3 separate regions of the Homo sapiens genome follow, and regions 1 and 3 are each linked to region 2. The links come from fine-mapping of genetic effects on plasma protein levels. A gene starts in region 2. Each other region holds a variant in brackets. All regions are shown on one strand. Distances are between the middles of the regions.

Region 1 (10,592 bases), 94 kb before region 2:
CAATAAAGTGGCCAACAGTTGGGTCAGTTATACGCCCACCATTTAGTGGTGAAATATGCGTGAACTTCTTCCTGCCAGTTAAGTGATGGCACAGAAAATAGTTAAGCATAAGCTGTTGAAGTAGATCTAATTCAAACATGTCACTTCTAGAATGAGTGAGGTGCACTAGGGTTTCAGAGGGTACATCTGTGAAGGGAAGTTCACAATAGACCAGCTGTTTGTGCACTGCCTCCCTCAAAGGTAACAGAAGACACCAACTATCCTATCGCCACAGCTCCAGGCAGATACAACTCTATACCTCTTCCTTTAATTTTTCCTTTCTCTTCCCTAAACTTCAACTTCCTCGTTCCTGAAGCCAGCAACAGGAAAGTGTATGGGTGAAGGAATAATGAAAAACAGGCATGGTCCCTCTTTCCACAGCAGCCTCCAGGCCAAAAGTCAGGACAGAAATTACCGGGGAGGAGGAAGATTTTTAATTGCATGTGACATTGAAATATTAACTGTACTGCACTTTTTAATGCCTTTGGTGAAATTTAGAGTCAACAAAAATGACTGCTATTTAAGAGCTGAAGCCAATAGGTATGTGGGGCTCTGCCTAAAATGTCATCTAAGGTATGGAAGGGAGATAAGAAACAGAATGTTGGAGGGAAGTCGTGGGAGAAAACTTAAATCATTTTCTTCTTGTGAGCCTACTGATTTCAGGTTGCATTTTCTCTTATTAAAACCAGACCTGTGCATGTACATGAAAGAGGAGAGCAAGATTTGTAGAAAAAGTAGGGGGTGGATATTTTAGCCAGGGCATGGCCATGATATGGGGTATATCTGGAGGCAAAGAAAGAAGTGTGAGTTTGGGCAAGAAGATTATTTCCAAATGAAAGACATGAGGTGCCCCAATAGAGACTGTTTTCCTCCTTGCCTTAAGGTAATAATGACTTTTATCTCAGGAAGAGAAGGATGGGCATAGGAGCCTGCCACCAGACACAAGTCTTTGGCTATGATTTTTCACACATGGAATTAATCCAGAGAAAATAGACAAGAAAGCTAAATTTTTAAAGAAACTGTAGTGACAGAGGAATCCCAGCCCTGGCTAATGGTAACCTTGTGAGTGCTTAATCCATAAAGCGGGATTAGGGTCCTTAAACTTGTACCACTGGGAAGGACCTGAAAAAGATGTGCAGGCTCCCAGAAAGTCGTCTTGCCTGTGTTCATGGAGGACAATGAACAATGAGGAATCTCACTGTGGCAGAACTAGGAACTGCCAGTTTGGTTAACCAAGAAGTGCAGTCTTTTCCAAGTCCGGTGGTCCCTACAATTCTTTTTTTTTTTTTTTTTTTTTTGACAGAGTTTTGCTCTTGTCACCCAGGCTGCAATGCAATGGTGCGATCTCAGCTCACTGCAACCTGCGCATCCCAGGTTCAAGTGATTCTCCTGCCTTAGCCTCCCAAGTAGCTGGGATTACAAGTGTCTGCCACCATGGCCAGCTAATTTTTATATTTTTAGTAGAGACAGGGTTTCGCTGTGTTGGCCAGGCTGGTCTTGAACTCCTGACCTCAGGTGATATACCCGCCTGGGCCTCCCAAAGTGCTGGGATTACAGGCATGAGCCACTGGGCCTGGCCTATCCCTGCAATTTTTAACAAACAAGATTTGCTATTTTTTACAGATAGAAACTGCTTTTTGTTTGCCATTATCACATTTTTTATATGAAAATTCTTTCTCCATCATTGTATGTTGTACACATTGAAGACAGATAATTAACTTTTGACTTATGAGTCACTAGAACGTAAGCTACACTCAGATTTGACAAATAGGACAGCATATCACACAGAGGTCCTGAATTTCAAGCTGGATGTGGTAACTGAATGAAACTTTGGTGTGGTCTTCACTGGAAAGGCGAGAGACCCGCAATAATGAGGAACAAGGGCCTGGGAATGTTGGGTAGCCAAGGGAATGGGTAAAGGTAAATGTGGTGGTTTGTCTATCCAAAGGCTCTTCCCTATGCCCCTCTCCTGACCTCCTCAATTGCGGGGGCTGGAAAGCTAAAGCACTCACCTTCCCAGACATGCTTGTAGCTCAGGGTAATCAAGTAGCCCAGAACTGGCCAATGAGGCATGGGTAGAAGTTACTGGTGAGATTTCCAAGAAATATGATTGGTTTTTAAGGGACAGTCTGGCCAAAGGCTGTCGTTCCCTTTGGTCCTTCCGTCTTCCTGACCCCTTCCTTTTTCTTCTTGCCTAGACTAGGTAATTAATACCTGGAGGTGTAGCAGGCATTTTACAACAGTGAAGTAGAAATTTTAAAATGGTGGAACGAGACAGAAAGAGCTCCTATGACACCATTGAGAAGCTGCTCCAGAGCCACGCTTCTTATGACATGAGAAAAATAAACTCCTATCTGGTGGAACTACTGTGATTGAATCTTCTGCCATTTGGATGTGAATTAATTCTTAACTGACATAATGTGGACTACATGCTCCAGTCATTAAAGTATATGTTTTAGAAATAAGAGTATTTATCAAAGTGTGTTAAAAGATTTTGATCAAAAGTCAGTCCTATGAACAATGGTTTGGGAAACACCAAGTTAAAGCAAATTAAACAGCTTACTTTATTTAAGGAAGTACAGGATACTGCATTTCCCTCACTTATTTCATTATCAATTTCAATGCCCTGGTTTCACTAGAACAAAGTTTGGGAAATTCTGGTGTATGACATATCAATAATATAGGACATAATTAATAACTTTTTCCTAAGTAAAAAAACAGGTTATAGTATGTATTTATGTTTACGAAGATTATGTCTTCTGAACATTTTTATCTATTTACTTGTTTTTCCATACTATCTAAATAAAATATAACTACTTATGTCATTCTTGTAATCAGAAAAAAAAAAACACAATACTGTTTTCTCAGTAGAATTCTGCTTACTTGGGGGGAATGAATGGAGACATGTGTTAAGTTCTTGCATGTTGTATTAAGTAATAGAACTACATTCCGGTAATGTATCTGCCTTAGATAGCATGACTATTCTAAGGCTGCTTCATGGATCACGAGGTCAAGAGATTGAGACCATCCTGGCCAATATGGTGAAACCCTATCTCTACTAAAAATACAAAAATTAGCTGGGTATGGTGGTGCAGGCCTGTAGTCCCAGCTACTCGGGAGGCTGAGGCAGGGGAATCGCTTGAACCAGGGAGTCAGAGGCTTCAGTGAGCCAAGATCGCACCACTGCACTCCAGCCTGGTGACAGAGCAAGATTCTGTCTCAAAACAAAAACAAAAACCAAAACCTACTGTTTGCTTAAAAACCTGCTGACAGAGCACATGACCAGCTGTGGAGATGAACACGGGAGGGATTGGGGGTGGGGGTTGGGGTTCTCTGTTTGTTCCTGAGAAAGTAAGAAACCCTCAGCTCAGACTAGTCTGTGGCACCAGCAGAACTGTCTTGAGGAGAAGATAGAAACTGTTGCATAAAGAATACTCTGAAGAAGGTCCTCACATGAGTGGCAGTCAGACAAGCTCACGGTGAGTACAGGTGCCTTCAGTTCTGTCAAAATGTTAAGATATATTAAGGAATAAATTAAGGAATATTAAAACCATCAGAATTTTATTTCTTCTACATCTAAGTGACCATATATAGTTGTAATGTGGCCAAAACTAACTTGCCACAAAAAATATCAATTATTTGTAATTTATTTAGACAATGGCTCTTTTTGAGGTTTTTAAAGAAAATTTAAAATGAAATACAAACTCAATTTATAAAATTATTTTGCTATGGGGTAGACAGTTAAATAAGGCCTAAGAACTCAATGGAAATAATGTATAACTATTAATATTCTGATTTTAATAGTTGTATTGTGGTTATATTGGAAACGTCATTTTTGTGGGAAATACACACTAATGTATTTGGAAATGATGGGACACCCGTTTGGAAACTTTCTTTCAAAAGCTTCAAGAAAAAAGGTCTATGTATTTTTCTTGCAACTTTTCTGTAAATTTGTGATGATTTCAACAATATAAAAATGCATTTAAATCAATGATTAAGCAAAAAACCTCACTAAATTCTATTCATCACCTTCTCCACACTTGTTTCAGATCACTAGAAATATCAGTTCTGCAAGCTCACACAACTGCGAACCAATTTATTAATGGACACGCTAAGCTACATTGCTGTGGAAAGGCATTGTCTTAGCATAGTTTTTTTCCAACGAGTACCCTGACAGCATCTCTATTTCTACTTAGAGGCTGAAAACACTTTGCCATTAAATAACTATTTTCAACAGTGAGAATTTTGTATACTAAAAAATATATAAAGATATCTCCTCCATAATCCATTACACTCTCCAAGGTATTTTCACATACCTTACATCACTGGATTCTCATCAGATTGGGAGGCAACTTGAGGGAGCTGAAAGAGAAGGAGTCCTAGACTAGGAAGGACTTGGCCTGTGATTCCAGCTGCACACATCCTGTGTGCCTTGGGAACATTGCCTAAATTCTCTGGGCCTCTCCTTCAATAGCTGCATCTCCTAAGTAATAAATGTGCCATTTACAATAATCACACTTTTCATTGTGAAGATATAGTAAAGTAAAAGTCACCAGGATGAAGTATAAATCACAATCAAGGATCACTTGTTTATCCAACCAACAATTATCCTGTACTTGTTCAGTGCCAAGCACTGTTCTAGGCACAGGAGACATAGCTATGCCCTACAGATATGGTTCCTGCCATCAAGTTCACAGTCTAATGGAAGCAGAGACAGACAGGACAATCAAATGATGATATCACCAAGTGACTGGGGTAAGGTAAAGAGTGACTTTAAGAAAGATAGTCACAGTGAGCTTCTTTAAGAAGAGCTGACACTTCAGTAACAGGAGGCAGCCGTGCTAAGACCTGCACGAGCAGCTCCCCCAGAGTGACCCATCAGAGGGGAAAGATGCCTTCAGAGGGAAAGGTTGCTTTGTGGAAATGCAGCTTTCTGTCAGTGTCCTGTGATCCCAGGCTGCAGAGTCTGTGAACACAGCATTATCCCTTCAGCTGCTGGTTGTTTGGGTACATTCATGGAGAAATCATATCAGGGTGAATAAGAGTACCCCAATTATTCTAACCTCAAACTCAAAGAGATTCAGCTAAAGAATAACCCTAGACTTTTAAGGAATTTTTTTTAAAGATAATGTGTGTATGTGTGTGTGTATGTGTGTAATATTATTCAAATTTTTATATGATTACATTTCATACGAATATTATTTCTGAAATCAGTTATTTTCTATTCTCCTAACTCAACAATTACACTCCCATTTACATACTATATTAGGGCAATTATCCTCAAGTATAATTAAGAAGCTAAAAAATGAGCACAGAAAGTCTTTGTGACCACATACAGGCAGACTGCCTTATAATTGAATTGCATGAATCAGGTAAAAAGCAAAGAAAGAAGAGAAAAGTTATTCCAACTCTAAAACCTCCGACTATCCGACAGTCATGGATTGTCCCCAAACACGGACTGTTAGTTTTATTGTCATTTACTTTGTACATTCACATCAGTAAAGTTTAGTCATTTGATTCATGCTTCAAAATTTTTTAATTGCAAAGTTTTCATGACTTAAAAATGGAAAACTCCTGAATTAGAAAGACTGTTCACATTTATGTGTCTGTCTATTTGTGCTAAAAATTATTTCTCCAGTCTACATTTACATTCCAATCTAGGATTGCTCTTAGAGAATTCTGAAATGCTTTCTATATTTGGTAGAACTGCATCAGAAACAAAAATATGCACATTTATTTCTTGAAGGATCATACCATGTTTAACATGTAATTCCAGCTCCCCTTTGCCTTTACATTTTTCTTTCATGGGGAAAAAAAATGCTTTCAAGGTATGGATGGCACAGGCCATTTGGCCTCAGACCAAAAATCACCTGAGGATCTGTGACTTCCTGGAATAGCTGGGTGTCAGTCATAGAGGTCCTGGTTCAGAGGCTGAGGCACACAAAGCCTCCTTATGTCAGGAGGGTGCTAGAGTCAAAATTCTCATCCTCTCCTTTCCCATCTAATCTCTATTCTTAAGAAGCACTTAAGGCACACAAAGTAAGTGTTGGGTGAATATTCCAGAATTAGCAAAGTGTGCTGAGACTTCTAATCATTTCACAACAGCGTTCTCTCCTTCTTTCTTTATATCTCTGAGTATTAGTTGAGTGAATGGCTGCTCTTCTACAGTCCACTTCTCCCAGCTAAGTGAGTTTGTGTGGTTGAGTGTTGGCCAAGAGTGTGTGAGCAGAAGCTATTCCCCAAAGGAAACTGCAACCCCTACACTGCTCTTTTCCTCACTCCTTGGACTGAACAACATTGACCACCCCAAGATGAAGGCAAATCCCTAGGGAGTAATAAAGCCATGGGATTAAAGGATCCTGGTTCTTTGAATGACATCATGAAACAAAGCCACCTACTTTTCAGCTGTTACATGACAGAAAAATATTACTAAACTTCTATTTTGTTTAAACAACGGTGCTTTCAGTTTGTTGATGACAGAAGTTCAATTAGTATCCAAACTAGCACCCACAGCAATTAATTCAACATGTATTTGATTATCTCCTTTCTTTGTGCTAGGTACTGTGCTACTTTCAGTGGGAAATTAAAAAAAAATCAGAAGATATATTTCTTGCCCTTACAGAGGTTAAAAACTAGTAGAAAATTATATGCACAGAAGTAACTACAAAGCAAGGGAGGATGCAAGAATGCATCAGAGAAGGAAGACAGCATAAAATTCTGTCA[A/G]TCTGTTAAACTTGTAACCAACATCTTTTCTTGAATGCCAAATATGTGGAATGACAAGCCAGCCTGCATGAAAATGATAAGGGTGGTGAAGCTTATTTGCACCCATCTTTTTTGCCTGTTTCATATTTCTTCCTCCTTTCCCAGGCACCCAGAGCCTTCTGTCTTCTATAAACCTCCCTTGCAGTGTCCCAGCAGCTCTGGATGGTACCCTATGCCCATACTCCCCTCAGTATATGCATGTCAAGTTTCCTTTTTCCTCAGGTTCTTACTGCCTCTGGTTCTTACTTAACAAGTGTTAAAGGTATACTGTGTTGCTGCCTCTCTAGTAATAATAGCTAGCATTTCTTGAACATTTGCTATGTACCAGGTATTATTCTAAGCTCTTTCTATGTAACTCGTTTAATATTCACTGAAATCCCATGACAAAGGTACTGTTAGTAGGAAAACTGAGGCTCAGAGAGGTTCAGAAATTTGCCCAAACACACGCAAATAAGTGGTTTGTATTTGAACCCAGGCAGTCTGATTCCTGAGCATCCAGAATCTATGCTTTTAACTGCATACAGCACAACTTTTAGCATTTTGTCAGTCATCTTTGGAAAATAAGAGGTTTTAATGCTAAGTGTTGGGCTCACAGGAGTTAAAACTACTTTGGCAGGACAATAAGAAAAGATAATTTGCATAAAAAGTCCTCACATCAGACCTTGTAGATAAAAACCTACCAATGGCGTGCCAAACCAAGTTCACTGTTTCTCTTCATAAGGTTAAATGAAGACTCTTGAGGAGATAAAAGATTCCCTCATCTCAAGAACTTACTACCCAAATGACACTTGTAGTAGTCTTTCTGTTCCAGTGATGATCTGGTGCTCCTTTAAGGAAGGAGTGGGATCCTATAAATAGGAAGATGATCTGCTTGGGTGCCATTCTATAGGATGGCACTATTTCCCAAACTGGAGTATGTTTTGATTGTCTCTTCTTCACTCCATTGGTGAGGGAGGCATTCCCACCCTGGAATTATAGGGATGGCAGAACACACAACGCCCAGCACTGGGCAGATTATATCCCAGCAGTTTATCAGTCACATAGATGCACAGACTGGGGAAGAACACTGCACTCCACTCAGGACGGCGGGGTGAGTTGCATTTGGGAACACAGTGAACAAGCAGAGTTGTGGGAGGCAGGCTTTGTAGTACCAAGAGGGTGAGGTGACCCTTGATTCCTGCAGAAGCACGTGCTTGGCTTGTTTTAATAATGTTGCAGGCCCAGAATTAAAGCCTGCTATTGAGGGATAAACAGACACTGTGCCTGGTTCCTCTGGTAAGTAGTGTTGTTTGGCTGGAGGACTTTATCCACAGGAGTAGAGTGGAGGAGGGGGGAGCTTGTGATTAGGCCATTAAAAACTCTCCCAGTTTCAGATGGCAAAGAAGCACATAATGCTGAATCTTAATTTCAAGCCTGATACCACAAGGCGGAGGACAGTCACGGGTGATAGCAAGATGTGTTCATGTGGTTCACAACACATACATAAGTATATTGATTATCTAGTGAGAAAATTACTCCTTTTGCTGGGATTGAATGAGAATTTCATTCAATCCTCAGATTTTATCAAGGAGGAAATTTGGGGTCAATGCCATTGTGCATTTACCAGCTCTCAAAGACTTGCTCATCTCCCTTTCTAACAATAACAAAGCAAGTCCAAAACCTTTTCCATGGGCAGTTAATACTATCTATCCAGAATTTTAAAATATTGTTTCCTTTTCGTTGCATTAATATTTGTTGTTTGCCTTCTATTTATAGAGATGCTGATATTCTAATTACGATAGTGATATAGTTGCCTTTTAAATAACTATGAATTTAAAACACAGGAAATAAAGGAATATCAAGTAAATAATACTATAGTAAATAGCACAGAGAAATGTATAATTATTGAACAAGATTCCAACATTTGGGAAATTCTTTAGTATGAGATAATGGTTTTCCTGGCTCATCCACTATGGGCACAGTGATAATGACTGTTAATATTAACAGAATACATTAAGTTTGGATATGAATGGTATCTGAGCAAGTTCTTTCTAATTCAAGACACTCAAAGACTAAAGATTACAGAAAAAGTTTAGTTGCAAAGATCAAAACTTATATAATGAAATCAATTATATATAGTCCTATCAAACAGTAAATAACCACACACATCTGTAGTTCAAGTAATGGTATCGACTATTGTTTCCCTATCTCAGAGAATGAATGAAAACTAAGTTGGGGTGACAGAGGTTAAGCCTCTATTCTGGTTATAATCTTTTGTGATTTAGGCTACAGTTTTAATTTCTTTGTCATGTGCTTTATGTATTTTTTTTGAAATGATACAGCATAGTACATACAAGATAAGTTGGGCTTTATAGCTAAACAGACCTGGGTTCAAATTCTGCCTCTGCCATCCACTTGCTGGGTGACTTTGAACAAATTATTTAGCCTCTCTGTACCTTGCTTCCTCATCTATAAGAAGAGATTATACGTCATTTGAAGAAATTGTCTGAGCAGTGGAACTAGTAAGTAAAAAGGACTGTGTATAGTGCCTGGCAGCACAGTAAGCCCCTGAGAGCTGGCAAATGGAACAATCTGCTTAAAGTTTGAGGTTTAAAGTTTAATGCTTCTCTGTCTGAGCTGTAGTTAACATTAACTATTTCACTCTCTCTGTAATTCTCTTATTTGTTGCCACAGAAATATGAAATTCAAGAACTCTGTAGACAGAAGTCTCCTCCTTTGCCAACGCATCCTAGCAATTCCCTCTGCAAAATACCTCTTAGAAAAACACCAAAGACATGGACTCAGCCTAAATGCCGACCAAGGATAGACTGGAAAAAGAAAATGTGGTACATATACACCATGGAACACTATGCAGCCATAAAAAAATGGGATCATATCCTTTGAAGGGGCATGGATGGAGCTGGAGTTCATTATTCTTAGAAAAGTAAAACAGAAAAAGAAAAGCAAGTACTACATGTTCTCACTTATAAGTGGGAGCTAAATGATGAGAATACATGAACACATAGAGGGGAACAAAACACTCTGGGGACTTTCAGAGGATGGAGGGTCAGAGAAAAGAGAGGATCAGGAAAAATAACTAAGTAATTCATCACCCAAGTACTAGGCTTAATACTTGAGTGATGAAATAATCTGTACAACAAACCTCCATGACACCAGTTTACCTATGTGACACCAGTTTACCTATGTAACATACCTGCACTTGTACCCTGAAGTTAAAATAAAAGTTTTTTTTTAAAAAAAGAAAACACCTGCTCTAGCTATAGGTGATGCGATTTCTTTTAATCAAATTTGCTTTAGGTAGGGAGAAAGTCTCTATCATTATGAGCAAGGTGCCCAGGATAAAAGCTTCTGAAGGACTCACAGGAAAGTTTGAGACCTGGAAAAATGTATTGGTACTGGCATATGCAAATAAAAGTCTTACTAAATCAAAATTGATAAAAGTTTAGTTAACTACAAAGCATAATATTATGCTGTAGTGGACTGAATGAGATATCCAGCACTGACCTCCAGAATCCATAAATATTACCTATTTGAAAAAAAAATCTTTGCAGAAATAAGTTAAGGATGTTTAGATGAGGAGATACTCTTGGATTATCTGAGCCAGCCCTAAATGCCATCACAAGGGTCCATAGAACAGAGAGACAGAGGAGGAAGTTATCACAGAGAGAAGAAGGTGATGTGGAGATTGAGACAATGAATGAAGAGATATACCTACAAACTAGAAAATGCCAACAGCCTCCAGAAGCTGGGACAGTCCAGGAACATCCTCTGTGGTAGCTCCCAGAGCAGGT
Region 2 (9,579 bases):
AAGAAAGTAGTACCTAATTTGCATATGTTAGAATGGAAATTATCCTGTAAAGATGCATCTACTAAATGCCAGATGTATTTAAGGAGCATCTACATTTGTAATAGACATAAGCCATTTCTAATTTAAATCACATGTTATTTTGTTTACTTTTTGAAAAGAATGTGACATGGAAAGGGCATCACCATCTAATGAAACCTCTTCATTTTACAAATTAGAAAAACAATGCCCAGAAAGTTGTAACTTACAGACATCTCGGAGTCATGAAGTGGTAGAGCTGGAACCAGGGCTCATGTCTGCTCAATGCCCACTCTCATCGCATTTCCACCATCTCACACACACACACACACACACACACACACACACACACAAACACTAGTGTCTCATGCATCTTATTGCTCACATTCTTTTCAAAAAGTAAATAGAACAACATGTGACATAATTTAGGAAGGGGACTTAAAAGTAAAGTGTGTATGACAGAAATAGGGCCACTTAATGGAAACAGCGATGCCAACAAATTACGTTCCTTAGCATTTTGCAAGAAATAGAGCTTTAAGGGGATCTAGAGACCAAATTCAATTTCCCAAGCCAATCATTTAACAGGGCGGTTGTACATTTAGGTTACCCTGAGTGTACAATAGCACTGGATTCGAGTTTTGCTTTTTGATTTTCATTTCTGTCTTTTGACAAGTTTTGTGATAGTAAAGGGGAAAGAATGTCCATCGACTTTCAATAGTCATTTCTACTATGACACCTCTGCTAAAACATCACCCTAATTTAGGCCCCAAGTAGCTCATGCCCAGATTATACCTACGAGACAATCAGGTCCTCTGGCCCACAGGCGCCCCCCCTTCCTATACTGCACCTCACTGACAGATTTATCACCTTTAAACCATTGTTTGCATCATATCACTCCCAGTCAAGCCCTGTGATGGTGTGTGTTTAATAGCTTATTGATTCTGTTCCAAATATTCTAATCTGGCTTTTTCAGTTCTTCATAATCTGTCTGCCTCTCAGAAATTCTACTCTTTCCAGTAAAGCATGCTCATTCGCATCGCCAACCCTTTACTAAATGCTTTTTCCCTTGTCTCTGTTCCCTCTTTCCTCTCTACTATTGCAAACTCTACCCAAGCCTCAAGGCACGCATTCGTGTCCTCCATTCAGCCTTTCCCCACTATTCCAGCCCCCGCTGTTGAGCTCTTTCTCCCTTTTCTGATTCCGTGAATTTTTCCACAGGTTACCCTGCTGGGCTTGCATATCCAAATTCAGTGCAAGTTCTAGGGCAGGAATCATGTTTTATTTTAGGAATCTCATGAGCCCTTTCCCCACCTCCATTGCTACATACCTCAGCACCTTGCTGACTACGACAGATTCTCAGGGAATACTTTGACTGTTGGATAGTTTAGACACGGTGGAGGAAGAGAATGTCAGCTACTTGCAAGCAATGCTGGCAAAAGCATCAGTACTATTTCTAGGGTTAAGTCTCAACCCCATTGCTCTTCTTCATGAATGTACACATTCACTCTACCACTAAATTGTTACTGACTCCTTCCTCTTCAGCGTTTGTTAAATAAGTTTATTTTCTCTAACCTTGGTCCTAAGTCTGATCCACCTCCAAGCAAGTTCACTGTACCTTTTTAGCCACCTCTCTTACTCCAAGGACACAGTCAAATGAAAGTTTTCATTTAGGCTCCCCCTCTCTTTCCTCAATAAGAGGAATTCCCATTCTTTTTCATTTGTGGTGTCCCCTTCCCAGGCTTGAAGGTAGGAGTGATATCGTGGTGACACTTCAGCTGTGGAGACTCTCCTCCTACCACATAAATGCTCCAAACCCAGATGTGTCTACAGCCCAGCTAAGATTAGAAAATGTTACTGGTTTCCCTTCCCTTCTCTGCCCCGCAAAATGACCATGATGCAGAGAGCAAGCTTTGAAGAGTTGGGATTTTTTCCTACTTAGAAGCCTTCTCACTACCTTCCCTCGGTGGAGGGGAAGGGGAAGCCTGCTTCCAGCCACATCTGAAGTTCCAGCTCTGCTTTGTGAGTTCTGACTCCTAAGGAGGCAGGAGAGACCCTCTGGAGGGCTCTAGGCATCCTGCTACTCCTCCTCCCGCTGGCACTCTTCCCTAACGCCAGGTGATCACACCTTCAGTCAAAGAGTTCCCGTTCTTCTGCCTCCTGCAGGATATGCTTCTTGGTCTATACTACCACGTGAGCTTCTTTAGTGGGTTTCCCTGCTCGCCCCTGCCCCCACCCCCCGACCCTCACTTGCGAGCACAGCGCCTCACCCCGGTGGACAGCCCGCCGGCGCCGCCAGGCCCTCTGCTGTGCGCACAAGTCAGCAGCTGGCGGCCTGCTCGCAGCACTGGCAGCGAGGACCTCGGAATCGCTTCCGCCCTCGGGCCTTCTCACGCGTCTAGGGACTGCCTCCAGCAGGTGCAGCCCCAGGTGCCCAATTGCCAGATCTTTAACCTCGCGCTCTCCCAGCCTTCAAAGTTCTCCAACCCGCGCCTGCCAGCCCCAGCGCGCCCTCTTGTCCAGATGCCAGCTCGGTTCAGGGTTCGCCCTCCCCGCGACTCCAGCCCCAGACTTTCCTCCTGGTTTCCAGTGCCCAGCACGGCCACTTACCCAGGGCAAGGGCCAGGAGCAGTGGCAGGGAGCTGGCGCCGCTGCACCGGGCGGCCCGGTCCATCAACCCCGCTCTGCCGGGCCGGGCAGCCCCTAGACAAGTCTCCCTCCTTCTTCGCCCCCTTCCCGGGCCTCGGGCGCCTGAGAGGGTGCCTGGAAACTAATCCCGGAGGCAGAAGGAAACGAAACTACTTCCCAGGCTGGCACCCTGGCTACAAGGCAGGGAAACACCCAGGGCGGGAGGCCGGCCGGCTCCGTGAATGTCGCCGGGAGGAGGGAGCCTCCTATTTATCCCCCCTCCTCCTGCACACACCCCGCCAAAGAGGCGCAGGACTTGGTCCTGGGAGCCTCCACGCTGCTCCCACCCAAATTGCCCCACACCCATACCCACACCCAGGGACATATTCGGGCTGCCCTCGGACCAGCTCACCACTCCCCCTGCTGGGTCTCACCTGACTGACTGTTCATTTCCCTACCCCCTAGGGCGTAAACAAGGTAGGGAGGGAGATGTAAAGAATCCGCGTGGAGGGGTGTCGGGGGTTCCGGTCGGGCCTGCAGGCTGACCTAAACTCCTGGAAGCCACCGAGGAAGAGTCAGAGACCCAAACGTGTTCTGGAATTCTAACTTCCTTTATTTCAGAGGATTGCTAGTGTCATGGAGAAACCAGACTCACCATTCATTGTGGTTGACTTCAGGCATTTGATAATGCAGGCAATTTCAAAAGAGTCATTGTTGCCTTTTAAAGTCTTGAAGCCATAGCGAAACCTCGTCTCTACAAAAAATACAAAAGTAAATTAATAGCCGGGTATGGTGGTGTGCACCTGCAGTCCCATCCATTCCCTGAGGCTGAGGTGGGGAGGATCGCTTAAGCTTGGGAGATGGAGCCTTCAATGAGCCTAGATCGAGCCACTTCACTCCAGCCAAGGCGCAAGAGTGAGACACTGTTTCAAAACAACGACAACAACAACAACAACATCAGCAACAAAAAAAAAAAAAAAAAAAAAGAAAAGAAATGAAAAAAGTCTTCAAGCTAGTGTCTTAGTTTCTGGGTGCATTGTCTTCTAATAATTCATAAAATTGGGGCTCACCAGGACCTACTTTAGAAATTTCATTTGTATTTCTGTTTATGAATTTACTCATGTATTCAGTATATTTTCATTTACTTGCATTAAGCAATTTCTGGAACAGAAAGACATCCTCACAGCTTTTAGAGAAAGCAAGCAGCATCCAATTTTACCTTATGTGGTTATATATTGCCTCCAAGATAACCAAAAGATACAGCTGCTTTTGTACTGGTCTGTGTTCCTCATATAAGATTTATGTGGATAATTATGCCCCTCAGTACAGAAATTTTATTTCTATAGCATCCAAAAGTCATGTAAGCCTTATTTTACATATGAAATGTAGTTTGGGTGTCTGCCTCTTCCTCCTCATCCTACTGTTTAAGTTAAGTAAATTGTTGTGCACTTGTCTCCCACGAATAACATTTCATTTCAAAACTAAATTATTTTACTGCCCCAGGCAACTGATATATCCGGTGGAATAAAAATCAGCTCTTAATTTTCAGAATCCCATTCTAGTCCCACATGACAGCTCATAAAACATTGGTAGAGAGGGCAGGCATGAAGTTTAAAGAAACCCAAAGTTGTAAGATGGAAGGTTACTGCACCCCAGCTAAAAAGAGCAGAAACACTGGAAGCCAATGGATTTTGACATCATCTCCCTCCCTCTCAACACTTCCACCCTGCATTTTTCTTTTCTGATATTCTCTCCATCTCTCAGCACCAGTGCCCTAAGTTAAAGTATCTCTTACTCCAAGATGGCATTTAGCCTAGCCAACAGCTGTCCTGTTAGCCCCAACAGAATGCTACAATTTTGTTTTCCTTTTTCGTAGATACTAATAAAAAAAAAAAAAAGCGAGACCTAAACAAAAAGTACTAAATGTTTGTTGAGCATTGGAAAATTCCAGGACTTGGTGTAAGTATTCATCATTTATGCCATTCAAGTGGTAAATTAACTTTTTCAGGCCACTAGAATATGAAGTAGTATAATTTAATATACTAAATAGGACAGATAAATTAATAACCTTCCTTGAGGGCTTTATTTACCACCATAAATAAAATAAGTACTCCCAAGAAAATCCAAATTTTCTGACACTGGATATCCAATCTCTTCAATGTTAAGAGACTTTTCCTGTCTTTTTTTGTTTGTTTCTTTTTTTTCCCCTCACTTTCTTTCTCTCTGTTCTTCCTCCTCTTCTTCCCTCTCCTTCTCCTTCTTCTTTTTCTCCCCCAGCCCCCAACCACCTCTCTCTCTCAAGTCATTTGCTTATGGGGCATGGTAAAGCTGGAATACAACCATTACATTTGGAAGAGTGGAAGGTAAGAATTGATTTTCCTGAGTCCTCAAACATGTAACTGAGTTGCGTCTCAGTGCTTTCATTTGCAAGCTGAGCTGTTACTAAGAGAAAAATAAACCAAAGTTACACCAGAGTCACAAGGTGAAACTTGTATTCCTAGTTAACCCCAAGGTAGGAATTGCTTGAGTGCTGTTCTTCCTGTGCCAGGTTTAGGCAGGTATAACCAGTCCTCCCAAATCTGGTATGAGGCTTAAGTAGATTCCTTTGGAGGGCCTTTAAGCATCAGCCTTTTTCTCTTCCCACACAGAACAGCCTGCAGCTGGGACCGTCCTCCCCGTCTTCTGGACAGGACAAAATAAACTTGTAGTTACATATAGGGCACAACACATAAACAGACACACGCCATGATGGAAAGGAAAATTTTGGAATGCATTCCTTCTAGGCCAACATGTATTCTCCAAATGAAGGCTTTAAGGCATTCAGTAGTATAGGAAAATTTCCTAATGACCATTAACTTTATTTAATAAGAGTGGGTGAATGAAAATGATGAAAGGCATTTTTAAAATTGTAATTTTTATAGTAATGATAAGCATCATGCATTGTAGATTATTAGTGGTACAGTTACATAGAGAGAACTTTCAAATATTTTATTTAAAACTACTGAATTGGTTTCTAAGAATGTATCAGTGAAAAATCACTGCTCAAAAGTTGTATTCAGGTAATTGTATTTTATAATCTAGTTGTTCTGAGGGAGGTAGTTATTTTTTTTCCTGCCTACTTTCTTGTATCTTCCTCTTCAGTCTAGGGGATCCACTTTTTATATGTATTTCTCAATGTGTTTGATTTGTATCTCTTTTATTTTTATTTATTTTGTTTTTTGAGACAAAATCTTGCTCTTGTCCCCCAGGCTGGAGTGCAATGGCGTGATCTCTGCTCACTGCAACCTCTGCCTCCGGGTTCAAGCAATTCTCCTGTCTCAGCCTCCCAAGTAGCTGGGGATTGCTGGCACCTGCCACCACACCCAGCTAATTTTTTGTGGTTTTTTTTTAGTAGAGATGGGGTTTCACCATGTTGGCTAGACTGGTCTCGAACTCCTGACCTCAGGAGATCCACCTCGGCCTCCCAAAGTGCTGGGATTACAGGCGTGAGCAACCACGCCCGGCTGACTTGCTATCTCTTTTAAATGGCAGCTTAACATATGTTATTAAACCTCAAAAATAATTGTCTCTGTGACATTATACCTGTTAGTTTCAGTTCACCATGATGATCTTTTTCTTTGGCCATATTGAAACATACTTCAAAAAGTAACTTCTGATTTTAAAAAATCTGGGCTTTTGTGCTGGCCCTAGTTGTAGGCTAAGTGAGAAAGCACCTATGTGGCCCTAGACATCTCTTCCTAAAGTCCTTGCCACAGTGGCTTCATCTCTTCCTACTTGGTCCCAGACTTCCAGCAAGGTAGACACTCCTCTAGGTGGGACAACAGAGCTGGAATATTATGTACAATTGGTTTTGGAATCTGTTCAGTCTGTTCAATTTGGATCTGTGTCACCCAATGACTGAACCACAAACTACTTACCTCTCTGAACCTCAGTTTCCTCATTGATAAAATGTGATGGTAATGACTTGCACAGTTTTTATGATTCCCAATAATACATATCTTCAAGGAAAAAATCTGGTGTATTAGAAACTGTTCAGTGAATTATAGTTGATAGTAGTAGGAGTAGGAGTACTAGTAGTAGTAGTATTGGTAGAGATGGGTGTCTCACTATGTGACTAGTCTCGAACTCCTGGCCTCAAGTAATCTTTCCTCCTCAGCCTCCCAAAATGCTAGTATTACAAGCATGAGCCACCATGTTCCACTGATAGTTGTTATGTCATTATAAAATTTTACATGGTACATAGAGAGAACCAGTAGGAAAAGGCATCCTTACTAACCCTCTCTTACTAATAGTTGAAGTAGAGAAAGAAAGGCACAGAGCAAGGCTCTGCTGGGAAAGTAACACTGAGCTAAAATTCCATGGATTTGGGTACAATTTTGCCTCTTCATATGCCCTTACACCTCCCTTACACCTCTCTGACCACCTTCTCCATCCTTTTTATTTCTCCTTCCTCCTTCAACTCTCTTTAGAGACCAAGATAGCACGTAACCCAGGATACAAAAACGTGTTGAATATAAACAAAGTACTGTGATTTGAAGATTTAAATAAATGAGCTACCTAGTTTCCCAGAATGCAAAGAAATAAATTCAAAAATTAACTCAAAAAATGAATGTTTGTTGTTGTTGTTGTTGTTGTTGTTGTTTTTGAGACAGAGGAGTCTCACTCTGTTGCTCAGGCTGGAGTGCAATGGCGCAATCTTGGCTCACTGCAAACTCTGCCTCCCGGGTTCAAGTGATTCTCCTGCCTCAGTCTCCCAAGTAACTGGGATTGCAGACATGCATCACCACGCCAAGCTAATTTTTGTATTTTTAGTAGATACGGGGTCTCCCCATGTTGGCCATGCTGTTCTTGAACTCTCGACCTCAGGTGATCCACCCAGCTCGGCCTCCCAAAGTGCTGAGATTACAGGTGTGAGCCACCGCACCCAGCCAAATAATGAATGCTTAATGAGTTTACAACAAACTAACACAGCTTTACGTGGTCATTTTCCCTCCTTCCCCCAACTTCTTGGTAAGGAGAAATGGTGACAGGAAAGAGTAAGAAATGAGAAGCAGCAAAGCTGGAGAAGAGAGGGAGGATGAGCTTAAAATAATTCTTCAAAAAATCTTTCATAGATGCAGAATGATATGTTAAAGGAGTTAAAAAAAAGGTGAAATCTACCTCTTGTATCATCTTCGTTTCTCATCCTTCCTTTGTTTTAAGGTGACATCAATATACATGTTATTAACCTCAAAATAATTTAATGGTCCTTATGATTCCCCCAAACAATTCAGTTATATCTTTAGTCTAACAATCCTTGGAATTTAAGATTTTTTCAGAGATAACTACATGTCTTCCTTTAATGATACATTTAAATTGCTTTTATATTTCTCATAGTGTAATTTTTTCGGAAATATTTCTTTAGCCCTATAATATATACCTGCCATCTGTCCATAAATACAGTATTTTTAAAACGCTAAAACTAATGTAAACTCTTCAGAAATGACTTAGCAGAAAATATGATATCATGCTTACAAAATATTCTGAAGTTACTGTCCTTTGTCTTTAAGGTATATTGAAAGTTCTTATTATTGTCCCTATGAATCTCTGTAAGATACTTTTAATAATTTTGTCCCCAGCATTACCACCTAATAATGGTCCACATAACTAGTTAGTTTTGAGATCCAAGGAGTATAATCCACAAATGCAAACAAGTTTAAACCTTAGAAAATAAAACCAGCATTACTCTCTAAATTTACTATGTTTAGGCTTTTGGGAGATAAGAAAAACTAGTATCCGTTTAATTTAATAAGAATTAATTATCTACATTTGTACAATACTTTCCCATATATTAACGATTTGAATTTAAAGTAGCTGCTGAGATAGGCAGGCAGTATTATTATTCTCATCTTAATGAGAGGAAATAGATGTCTGCATAGTCAAGTGATTGGTCCAACTTTCAAAGTAACTCCTAGAATCAAGGTCTAAAGGCAGTAAGGCTCAAGCTATCATAACGAAATGCCATAGACTGGGTGGCATAAACAACAAAAATTTATCTTCTCACAGTTCTAGAAGCTAGGAAGTATGAGATCCGGTGATTCAGTCCTAGTGAGGTCTCTTTTCCTGGCTTGCAGATGGCCACCTTCTCACTGTGAGCTCACATGGCCTTTTTTCATCATGTTCACATGAAGAGAGATAGGGAGATCTCGCTTTTTCTCTTCTTATGAGGCCACCAATCCTATCAGGTTGGGACTCCATTATTATGACGTCATTTAACCTTAATTACCTCCTAAAAATCCTATATCCAAGTCACCCTGGGGGTTAGGGCTTCAATGTATAAATTTTGAGGGAATACAAACATTCAGTTCATAACATAGAGTTGGGTTTGGGAATTAGACAGGCTTAGCTCTGCCACTTTTTTCTTTTTAATAAAGCTTTTTATGTTTAAAACGTTTAGATTCAAAGAGAAATTCAAAAATGTTACAGAGAGTTTCTGTACATCTTGCATGTAGTTTCTCCTATTGTTAATAGCTTACCTTAGTAAGGTTCATTTGTTGAAACTAAGGAACAAACATTAGTGCATTGCTATTAACTAAAGTCCATATTTTACTTACATTTTCTTTGTTTTTGTCTAATTTTTTTTTTTATGTTCCAGTGTCCCATCCTGGATACCACATTACCTTTAGTCGTCATTTGTCCTAAGGATCCTTTTGGCTGTGACAGTTTTTCAGACTTTGCTTTTGCTGGCCTTGAAAGTTTCAAAGAGTACTCATCAGGTATGTCATAGCATGTTCTACAATTGTGTCTTTTCTGAGGTTTTTCTCATGGTTAGGTTTTTCTGGTTTGGTGGAAGAAGACCACAATGATAAAATATCATTTCTACTGATTTTATGAAGGGTGAATAATGTCAACATGATAACTATTCTTGATATTGACCTTGGTCACCTGGTTGAGTTCATT
Region 3 (10,592 bases), 80 kb before region 2:
AATTTGCTTTATGAATCTGGGTGCTCCTGTATTGGTTGCATATATATTGAGAATAGTTAGCTCTTCTTGTTTCATTGATCCCTTTACCATTATGTAATGCCCTTCTTTGTCTTTTTTGATCTTTGTTGTTTTAAAGTCTGTTTTATCAGAGACTAGGTTTGCAACCCTGCTTTTTTTTTTTTTTTTTTTTTGCTTTCCATTTGCTTGGTAAATATTCCATCATCCCTTTATTTTGAGCCTATGTGTGTCTTTGCACATGAGATGGGTCTCCTGAATACAGCACACCAATGGGGCTTGACTCTTTATCCAATTTGTCAGTCTGTGTCTTTTAATTGGGGTGTTTAGCCCATGTACATTTAAGGTTAATATTGTTATGTGTGAATTTGATTCTGTCATTATGATGTTTTCTGGTTATTTTGCTTTTTAGTTGATGCAGTTTCTTCATAGTTTCAATGGTCTTTATAATTTGGTATGTTTTTGCAGTGGCTGGTACCGGTTGTTCCTTTCCATATTTAGTGCTTTCCTCAGGAGCTCTTGCAAGGCAGTCCTGGTGGTGACAAAATCTCTCAGCATCTTCTTGTCTGTGAAGGATTTTATTTCTCCTTCACTTATGAAGCTTAGTTTGGCTGGGTATGAAATTCTGGGTTGAAAATTCTGTTCTTTAAGAATGTTGAATATTGGCCCCCACTGTTTTCTGGCTTATAGGCTTTCTGTAGAGAGATCCACTGTTAATCTGATGGGCTTCCCTTTGTGATTAACACAACCTTTCTCTCTGTCTGCCCTTAACATTTTCCTTTTATTTCTACCTCGGTGAATCTGACAATTATGTGTCTTGGGGTTGCTCTTCTCAAGAGGTATCTTTGTGGTGTTCTCTGCATTTTCTGAATATGAATGCTGGCCTGTCTTGCTACATTGAGGAATTTCTCCTGGATAATATCCTGAAGAGTGTTTTCCAACTTGGTTCCATTCACCCCATCATTTTCAGGTACACCAATAAAACATGGGTTTGGTCTTTTCACATAGTCCCATATTTCTTGGAGGCTTTGTTCATTCCTTTTTCTCTAATCTTGTCTTCACACTTTATTTCATTAAGTTTATCTTCAATCTTTGAAATCCTTTCTTCCCACTTGATTGATTTGTCTATTGATACCTATGTATGCTTCATGAGGTTCTCATGCTGTGTTTATCAGCTCCATCAGATCATTTATATTCTTCTCTAAACTGTTTAATCTAGTTAGCAACTCCTCTAACCTTTTTTCAAGGTTCTTAGCTTCCTTGCTTTGGGTTAGAACATGCTCCTTTAGCTTGGAGGAGTTTGTTATTACCCACCTTCTGAAGTCTACTTCTGTCAATTCGTCAAACTCATTCTCCATCCAGTTTTGTTCCCTTGCTGGTGAGGAGTTGTGATCCTTTGGAGGAGAAGAGGCATTCTGATTTTTGGAATTTTCAGCCTTTTTGTGCTGGTTTTTCCTCATCTTCATGGATTTATCTACCTTTGGTCTTTCATGTTGGTGACCTTTGGATGGGGTTTCTGTGTGGACATCTTTTTTGTTGACATTGATGCTATTCCTTTCTGTTTCTTAGTTTTCCTTTTGACAGTCAGGCCCCTCTGCTGCAGGTCTGCTGGAGTCTGCTGGAGTTTGCTCCAGACCCTGTTTGCCTGGGTATCACCAGTGGAGGCTGCAGAACAGCAAAGATTGCTGCCTGTTCTTTCCTCTGGAAGCTTCATCCCAGAGGGGCACCCACCAGATGGCAGCTGGACCTCTCCTGTATGACGTGTCTGTTGACCCCTGCTGGGAGCTGCCTCCCAGTCAGGAGGCACAGGGATCAGGGACCCACTTGAGGAGGCAGTCTGTCTATTAGCAGAGCTCAAGCGCTGTGCTGGGAGATCCACCGCTGTCTTCAGAACTGGCAGGCAGAAACGTTTAAGTCTACTGAAGCTGCGCCCATAGTCGCCCCTTCCCCCAGGTGCTCTGTCTCAGGGAGGTGGGAGTTTTATCTATAAGCCCCTGACTGGGGTTGCTGCCTTTCTTTCAGAGATGACCCACCCAGAGCGGAGGAGTCTAGAGATGCAGTCTGGATACACCAGCTTTGTGGCACTGTGGTGGGCTCTGCCCAGTTTGAACTTCTCAGTGGCTTTGTTTACATGGTGAGGGGAAAAATCCCTACTCAAGCTTCAGTAATGGTGGATGCCCCTCCCCCCACCAAGCTGGAGCTTCCCAATTTGACTTCAGACTGCTGTGCTGGCAGCGAGAATTTCAAGCCAGTGGATCTTAGCTTGCTGGGCCCCATGGAGGTGGGATCTGCTGAGCCAGACAACTTGGCTCCCTGGCTTCGGCCCCCTTTCCAGGGGAGTCAAATGTTCTGTCTCGCTGACATTCCAGTAGCCACTGTGGTATGAAAAAAACCTGAAGCTAGCTTGATGTCTGCCCAAATGGCTGCCCAGTTTTGTACTTGAAACCCAGGGCCCTGGTGGTGTAGACATCCAAGGGCATCTCCTGGTCTGCAGGTTGCAAAGACCATGAGAAAAGCACAATATCTGAGCTGGAATGCACTGTTACTCATGGCACAGTCCCTCAAGGCTTCCCTTGACTAGGGGAAGGAGTTCCCCAAGCCCTTGCACTTCCCACATGAGGTGACGCCCATCCTGCTTCTGCTCACCCTCCATGGGCTGCACCCACTGTCTAACCAGTCCCAGTGAGATGAGCTGGGTACCTCAGTTGGAAATGCAGAAATCTCCTGCCTTCTGCATTAATCTCGCTGGCAGCTGCAGACTGGAGCTGTTCCTATTCGGCCATCTTGCCAGCCAAAATTGATTTTGGACTTCTGGCCTCCATAATTCCAAGAGAATAAATTTCACTTGTATTAAGCCACCCAGTTTGTTACAGCAGCTATAGAAAACTAACACAGATGCCAACTTGTCTGCAGCTCAGCTATCATAACAATAACATAATGAACTTCACACCATAAGACTATCAACTCTTAACAACTCCCAACTTTATAAAAATTCTTTCATAAATTAAACAGCCAAAAATTATACATAATATGGGAAGTGTGGTTATATTTTAATATATCTGATATGGTGAAAAGCAAAGCCTCTAAAAATAAAAGATACTAGGAATATTAATGTCTTAACATGTTCGTGAGTCTGTGGGTCCTGAGATGCTCTCTAATTACTTGGAAACACTCCCAGTTGGATTAATTAACTGCCAGCTTAAGTAATTGGGAGTAACAGCTATTTCATTGTTTAACCACAGATGCATTGCCCTCCCTCCCACATACCAGAATAGGGAGATTAAGCACATGGCCAGAGAAAAAATAAATGTACTTTTGATGAGAATAACTTTTTTTGGCCCAGCTTTACTATTAATTAGTATTTTCACAAGAACTCTGTCCAAGTTATGAAATGTATTTAGGTAATCCCAAGTACAACAAGTAGACAGGTATAATGTCAAAATCTCATAAGTAGAATGTCAAAATCTCAGAATGTCAAAATCTCTTTGACATTACAGCTGGCTTGTGGCATGGAACAATTTTTTCCATCTTATACTTTTCTGTGTATCTTGAATTTTTTAACAATAAGCAATAATCCCCTCTCAAATCAGAAAAAAATAGAAATAAAGAGGAACACCCTAAATTTACTTAGTTTCTATTTATGTTCGAACATGGAATCTTGGACCCCAGTTACTTTGCTTCAGTGCTTACTTGCCATCAAAGAAGCCTCCTTTGTATTGACTGAGCCCAAAACCTGTTCTAAGATTTGCCGGCCTGGTTCCTTAGACATACTGACTGCCCCCCCTTTACTCTGTCACTACAGCAGCAAAGAGCACCATAGAGTATGGCTTATTAAGGTCTCTATCATGGTATAACTGAGCAAATCAGTGCTGACACACTTTCTAACACTTTCTAACAAAACATACCATTTAAACAGCAACAACTTTTTTTTTTTTTTTCTTGAGACAGAGTCTTGCTCTGTTACCATATTGGCTGGGGTGGTCTCGAACTCCTAACCTCAAGTGATCCACCTGCCTCGGCCTCACAACATGCTGGAATTACAGGCATGAGCCACCATGCCTGGCCTACAGCAACATTGATGCTTGGTCTCCCTTAGACTTGTGAGATGGCCC[G/A]AGGAACCTTGTTTTAACTCAAGATTAATTCTACGTAACTATAAGTCTTTATTATTCTTATCAAGACCTTACATGTGGTCTTCTATTCAGGTAGAGACTAATCCACAAGGTTGGCAAGTTACACACGGAGAGAGGTAATTTACCTTCCTAACCAGTTTCAGTTTCATAATCACAGCACCATTAGTTTCACCTCTGCATATAATTAAGCGAAGACTCACCCAGCTGTAGCCATGTAAGCTGATCATTCAAAATCCACATATTTAGCTTTCTGTCCTTTCTATTTCTTCTCTCTCATCTCCCTAGGTAGTTGTGAAACACAAACCCCCAAACATCTTCAAAAGCTGTCACAGATCATTGCAGAAGCATAAAGTACTTTTAAAGCATTTCTGCCATGGAGATAGATTCCTATCATATCTTTCCTTTCAATTAAAGCCTGACTGGAATATGTTTAGCAGTGAACAATGAAGTCTGTTTATGAAAAGTTGTTACTAATTTGTGCAAGCACATTTCTACGGGTTTAAAGCAACTATGAATCACACAAATCCATGTGGGCAAGAAAAAAATTTTAATTTGAGTTTCCAGGTCATTTTTACTATGTGAGTTCTTTCTTTCCAAAACTAATTACTGAAGGAAGCAGGGCAGGGTGAGAAGAGAAACAGCCAAGCTAAGTAAAAAGAAAAAAGAAAAGACTAAGCATTTTTCTTGAGATCAGAGAAATCACAATCATGTAACAATGTTTTTTACCCTGCTAAGACAGAAACCAATTTCACTGACTTGAGACACACTCCAGAAGAGAACTGGGTTTCTCAGTGAACCATGAACTGCCTCTGACCCTCAGTTCCCATCATTGGAAATCAGAGCCGTGGGCCAGTTGGGCAGTTTCCATGCTGTACTCAGTGGCATTTGGAGGGTTCTGAGCATGTGCTTAGGGGCAGCCCAAGTTCCACACCCTTCAGCTTTTATCTGTTATGTACATTAACTCACATAAGATTTTTGTTTTAGAAAGAAATAAGATGTGGATTTTTGTTGGTTTGTATAAGACAAATTGAAAAATAAGACTGGTTAATAGTAACTATAAGAAAAAAATATCTTTACATTTTATGGTGCCTGGTCCCATAAATTATTACTATTTTTTATTATTATTATACTTTAAGTTTTAGGGTACATGTGCACAACGTACAGGTTTGTTACGTATGTATACATGTGCCATGTTGGTGTGCTGCACCCATCAACTCGTCATTTAGCATTAGGTATATCTCCCAGTGTTATCCCTCCCCCCTCCCCCCACCCCACAAGAGTCCCCAGTGTGTGATATTCCCCTTCCTGTGTCCATGTGTTCTCATTGTTCAATTCCCACCTATGAGTGAGAACATGTGGTGTTTGGTTTTTTGTCCTTGTGATAGTTTGCTGAGAATGATGGTTTCCAGCTTCATCCATGTCCCTACAAAGGACATGAACTCATCATTTTTTATGGCTGCATAGTATTCCATGGTGTATATGTGCCACATTTTCTTAATCCAGTCTATCATTGTTGGACATTTGGGTTGGTTCCAAGTCTTTGCTATTGTGAATAGTGCCACAATAAACATATATGTGCATGTGTCTTTATAGCAGCATGATTTACAATCCTTTGGGTATATACCCAGTAATGGGATGGCTGGGTCAAATGGTATTTCTAGTTCCAGATCCCTGAGGAATCGCCACACTGACTTCCACAGTGGTTGAACTAGATTACAGTCCCACCAACAGTGTAAAAGTGTTCCTATTTCTCCACATCCTCTCCAGCACCTGTTGCTTCCTGACTTTTTTTTTTTTTTTTTTTTTTTTTTTTTATTATACTCTCAGTTTTAGGGTACATGTGCACATTGTGCAGGTTAGTTACATATGTATACATGTGCCATGCTGGTGCGCTGCACCCACTAATGTGTCATCTAGCATTAGGTATATCTCCCAGTGCTATCCCTCCCCCCTCCCCCGACCCCACCACAGTCCCCAGAGTGTGATATTCCCCTTCCTGTGTCCATGTGATCTCATTGTTCAATTCCCACCTATGAGTGAGAATATGCGGTGTTTGGTTTTTTGTTCTTGCGATAGTTTACTGAGAATGATGGTTTCCAATTTCATCCATGTCCCTACAAAGGATATGAACTCATCATTTTTTATGGCTGCATAGTATTCCATGGTGTATATGTGCCACATTTTCTTAATCCAGACTATCATTGTTGGACATTTGGGTTGGTTCCAAGTCTTTGCTATTGTGAATAGTGCCGCAATAAACATACGTGTGCATGTGTCTTTATAGCAGCATGATTTATAGTCCTTTGGGTATATACCCAGTAATGGGATGGCTGGGTCAAATGGTATTTCTAGTTCTAGATCCCTGAGGAATCGCCACACTGACTTCCACAATGGTTGAACTAGTTTACAGTCCCACCAACAGTGTAAAAGTGTTCCTATTTCTCCACATCCTCTCCAGCACCTGTTGTTTCCTGACTTTTTAATGATTGCCATTCTAACTGGTGTGAGATGATATCTCATAGTGGTTTTGATTTGCATTTCTCTGATGGCCAGTGATGATGAGCATTTTTTCATGTGTTTTTTGGCTGCATAAATGTCTTCTTTTGAGAAGTGTCTGTTCATGTCCTTCGCCCACTTTTTGATGGGGTTGTTTGTTTTTTTCTTGTAAATTTGTTTGAGTTCATTGTAGATTCTGGATATTAGCCCTTTGTCAGATGAGTAGGTTGCAAAAATTTTCTCCCATGTTGTAGGTTGCCTGTTCACTCTGATGGTAGTTTCTTTTGCTGTGCAGAAGCTCTTTAGTTTAATTAGATCCCATTTGTCAATTTTGGTTTTTGTTGCCATTGCTTTTGGTGTTTTGGACATGAAGTCCTTGCCCACGCCTATGTCCTGAATGGTAATGCCTAGGTTTTCTTCTAGGGTTTTTATGGTTTTAGGTCTAACATTTAAGTCTTTAATCCATCTTGAATTGATTTTTGTATAAGGTGTAAGGAAGGGATCCAGTTTCAGCTTTCTACATATGGCTAGCCAGTTTTCCCAGCACCATTTATTAAATAGGGAATCCTTTCCCCATTGCTTGTTTTTCTCAGGTTTGTCAAAGATCAGATAGTTGTAGATATGCGGCATTATTTCTGAGGGCTCTGTTCTGTTCCATTGATCTATATCTCTGTTTTGGTACCAGTACCATGCTGTTTTGGTTACTGTAGCCTTGTAGTATAGTTTGAAGTCAGGTAGTGTGATGCCTCCAGCTTTGTTCTTTTGGCTTAGGATTGACTTGGCAATGCGGGCTCTTTTTTGGTTCCATATGAACTTTAAAGTAGTTTTTTCCAATTCTGTGAAGAAAGTCATTGGTAGCTTGATGGGGATGGCATTGAATCTGTAAATTACCTTGGGCAGTATGGCCATTTTCACGATATTGATTCTTCCTACCCATGAGCATGGAATGTTCTTCCATTTGTTTGTGTCCTCTTTTATTTCCTTGAGCAGTGGTTTGTAGTTCTCCTTGAAGAGGTCCTTCACATCCCTTGTAAGTTGGATTCCTAAGTATTTTATTCTCTTTGAAGCAATTGTGAATGGGAGTTCACCCATGATTTGGCTCTCTGTTTGTCTGTTGTTGGTGTATAAGAATGCTTGTGATTTTTGTACATTGATTTTGTATCCTGAGACTTTGCTGAAGTTGCTTATCAGCTTAAGGAGATTTTGGGCTGAGACGATGGGGTTTTCTAGATAAACAATCATGTCGTCTGCAAACAGGGACAATTTGACTTCCTCTTTTCCTAATTGAATACCCTTTATTTCCTTCTCCTGCCTGATTGCCCTGGCCAGAACTTCCAACACTATGTTGAATAGGAGCGGTGAGAGAGGGCATCCCTGTCTTGTGCCAGTTTTCAAAGGGAATGCTTCCAGTTTTTGCCCATTCAGTATGATATTGGCTGTGGGTTTGTCATAGATAGCTCTTATTATTTTGAAATACGTCCCATCAATACCTAATTTATTGAGAGTTTTTAGCATGAAGGGTTGTTGAATTTTGTCAAAGGCTTTTTCTGCATCTATTGAGATAATCATGTGGTTTTTGTCTTTGGCTCTGTTTATATGCTGGATTACATTTATTGACTTGCGTATATTGAACCAGCCTTGCATCCCAGGGATGAAGCCCACTTGATCATGGTGGATAAGCTTTTTGATGTGCTGCTGGATTCGGTTTGCCAGTATTTTATTGAGGATTTTTGCATCAATGTTCATCAAGGATATTGGTCTAAAATTCTCTTTTTTGGTTGTGTCTCTGCCCGGCTTTGGTATCAGAATGATGCTGGCCTCATAAAATGAGTTAGGGAGGATTCCCTCTTTTTCTATTGATTGGAATAGTTTCAGAAGGAATGGTACCAGTTCCTCCTTGTACCTCTGGTAGAATTCGGCTGTGAATCCATCTGGTCCTGGACTCTTTTTGGTTGGTAAACTATTGATTATTGCCACAATTTCAGAGCCTGTTATTGGTCTATTCAGAGATTCAACTTCTTCCTGGTTTAGTCTTGGGAGAGTGTATGTGTCGAGGAATGTATCCATTTCTTCTAGATTTTCTAGTTTATTTGCGTAGAGGTGTTTGTAGTATTCTCTGATGGTAGTTTGTATTTCTGTGGGATCGGTGGTGATATCCCCTTTATCATTTTTTATTGTGTCTATTTGATTCTTCTCTCTTTTTTTCTTTATTAGTCTTGCTAGCGGTCTATCAATTTTGTTGATCCTTTCAAAAAACCAGCTCCTGGATTCATTGATTTTTTGAAGGGTTTTTTGTGTCTCTATTTCCTTCAGTTCTGCTCTGATTTTAGTTATTTCTTGCCTTCTGCTAGCTTTTGAATGTGTTTGCTCTTGCTTTTCTAGTTCTTTTAATTGTGATGTTAGGGTGTCAATTTTGGATCTTTCCTGCTTTCTCTTGTAGGCATTTAGTGCTATAAATTTCCCTCTACACACTGCTTTGAATGCGTCCCAGAGATTCTGGTATGTGGTGTCTTTGTTCTCGTTGGTTTCAAAGAACATCTTTATTTCTGCCTTCATTTCGTTATGTACCCAGTAGTCATTCAGGAGCAGGTTGTTCAGTTTCCATGTAGTTGAGCGGCTTTGAGTGAGATTCTTAATCCTGAGTTCTAGTTTGATTGCACTGTGGTCTGAGAGATAGTTTGTTATAATTTCTGTTCTTTTACATTTGCTGAGGAGAGCTTTACTTCCAACTATGTGGTCAATTTTGGAATAGGTGTGGTGTGGTGCTGAAAAAAATGTATATTCTGTTGATTTGGGGTGGAGAGTTCTGTAGATGTCTATTAGGTCTGCTTGGTGCAGAGCTGAGTTCAATTCCTGGGTATCCTTGTTGACTTTCTGTCTCGTTGATCTGTCTAATGTTGACAGTGGGGTGTTAAAGTCTCCCATTATTAATGTGTGGGAGTCTAAGTCTCTTTGTAGGTCACTGAGGACTTGCTTTATGAATCTGGGTGCTCCTGTATTGGGTGCATAAATATTTAGGATAGTTAGCTCCTCTTGTTGAATTGATCCCTTTACCATTATGTAATGGCCTTCTTTGTCTCTTTTGATCTTCGTTGGTTTGAAGTCTGTTTTATCAGAGACTAGGATTGCAACCCCTGCCTTTTTTTGTTTTCCATTTGCTTGGTAGATCTTCCTCCATCCTTTTATTTTGAGCCTATGTGTGTCTCTGCACGTGAGATGGGTTTCCTGAATACAGCACACTGATGGGTCTTGACTCTTTATCCAACTTGCCAGTCTGTGTCTTTTAATTGCAGAATTTAGTCCATTTATATTTAAAGTTAATATTGTTATGTGTGAATTTGATCCTGTCATTATGATGTTAGCTGGTGATTTTGCTCATTAGTTGATGCAGTTTCTTCCTAGTCTCGATGGTCTTTACATTTTGGCATGATTTTGCAGCGGCTGATACCGGTTGTTCCTTTCCATGTTTAGTGATTCCTTCAGGAGCTCTTTTAGGGCAGGCCTGGTGGTGACAAAATCTCTCAGCATTTGCTTGTCTATAAAGTATTTTATTTCTCCTTCACTTATGAAGCTTAGTTTGGCTGGATATGAAATTCTGGGTTGAAAATTCTTTTCTTTAAGAATGTTGAATATTGGCCCCCACTCTCTTCTGGCTTGTAGGGTTTCTGCCGAGAGATCCGCTGTTAGTCTGATGGGCTTTCCTTTGAGGGTAACCCGACCTTTCTCTCTGGCTGCCCTTAACATTTTTTCCTTCATTTCAACTTTGGTGAATCTGACAATTATGTGTCTTGGAGTTGCTCTTCTCGAGGAGTATCTTTGTGGCGTTCTCTGTATTTCCTGAATCTGAACGTTGGCCTGCCTTGCTAGATTGGGGAAGTTCTCCTGGATAATATCCTGCAGAGTGTTTTCCAACTTGGTTCCATTCTCCACATCACTTTCAGGTACACCAAT

Alleles and levels. Positions count from the first base shown, and alleles are read on the strand shown. Strength reflects both the effect of a copy and how common the allele is.
In carriers of allele G in region 1, the plasma level of the protein whose gene starts at base 2,884 in region 2 tends to be higher than with A alone (strong association).
For the plasma level of the protein whose gene starts at base 2,884 in region 2, G is the low allele of the variant in region 3 and A is the other (strong association).

What was found. PIP is the posterior inclusion probability: the model's chance that the variant is causal. The UK Biobank Pharma Proteomics Project read protein levels with antibody pairs (Olink). The fine-mapping took linkage between variants from a reference panel, not from the people measured, so its PIPs are less certain.
Region 1: its variant is fine-mapped to the plasma level of the BTC protein (UK Biobank, PIP above 0.99).
Region 3: its variant is fine-mapped to the plasma level of the BTC protein (UK Biobank, PIP above 0.99).

What each region holds. Positions count from the first base shown.
Region 1 is chr4:74,697,342-74,707,933 of GRCh38, forward strand. No RefSeq gene overlaps it. Among named protein-coding and RNA genes, the nearest start is that of BTC, 92 kb to the right of the region's middle. The variant A/G (reference allele first, on the strand shown) is at 6,763.
Region 2 is chr4:74,791,640-74,801,218 of GRCh38, forward strand. It overlaps BTC (betacellulin), which reads right to left and starts at 2,884. Exons shown (of 6, transcript NM_001729.4): 1 at 2,623-2,884. The coding sequence starts at 2,686.
Region 3 is chr4:74,711,610-74,722,201 of GRCh38, forward strand. No RefSeq gene overlaps it. Among named protein-coding and RNA genes, the nearest start is that of BTC, 78 kb to the right of the region's middle. The variant G/A (reference allele first, on the strand shown) is at 4,128.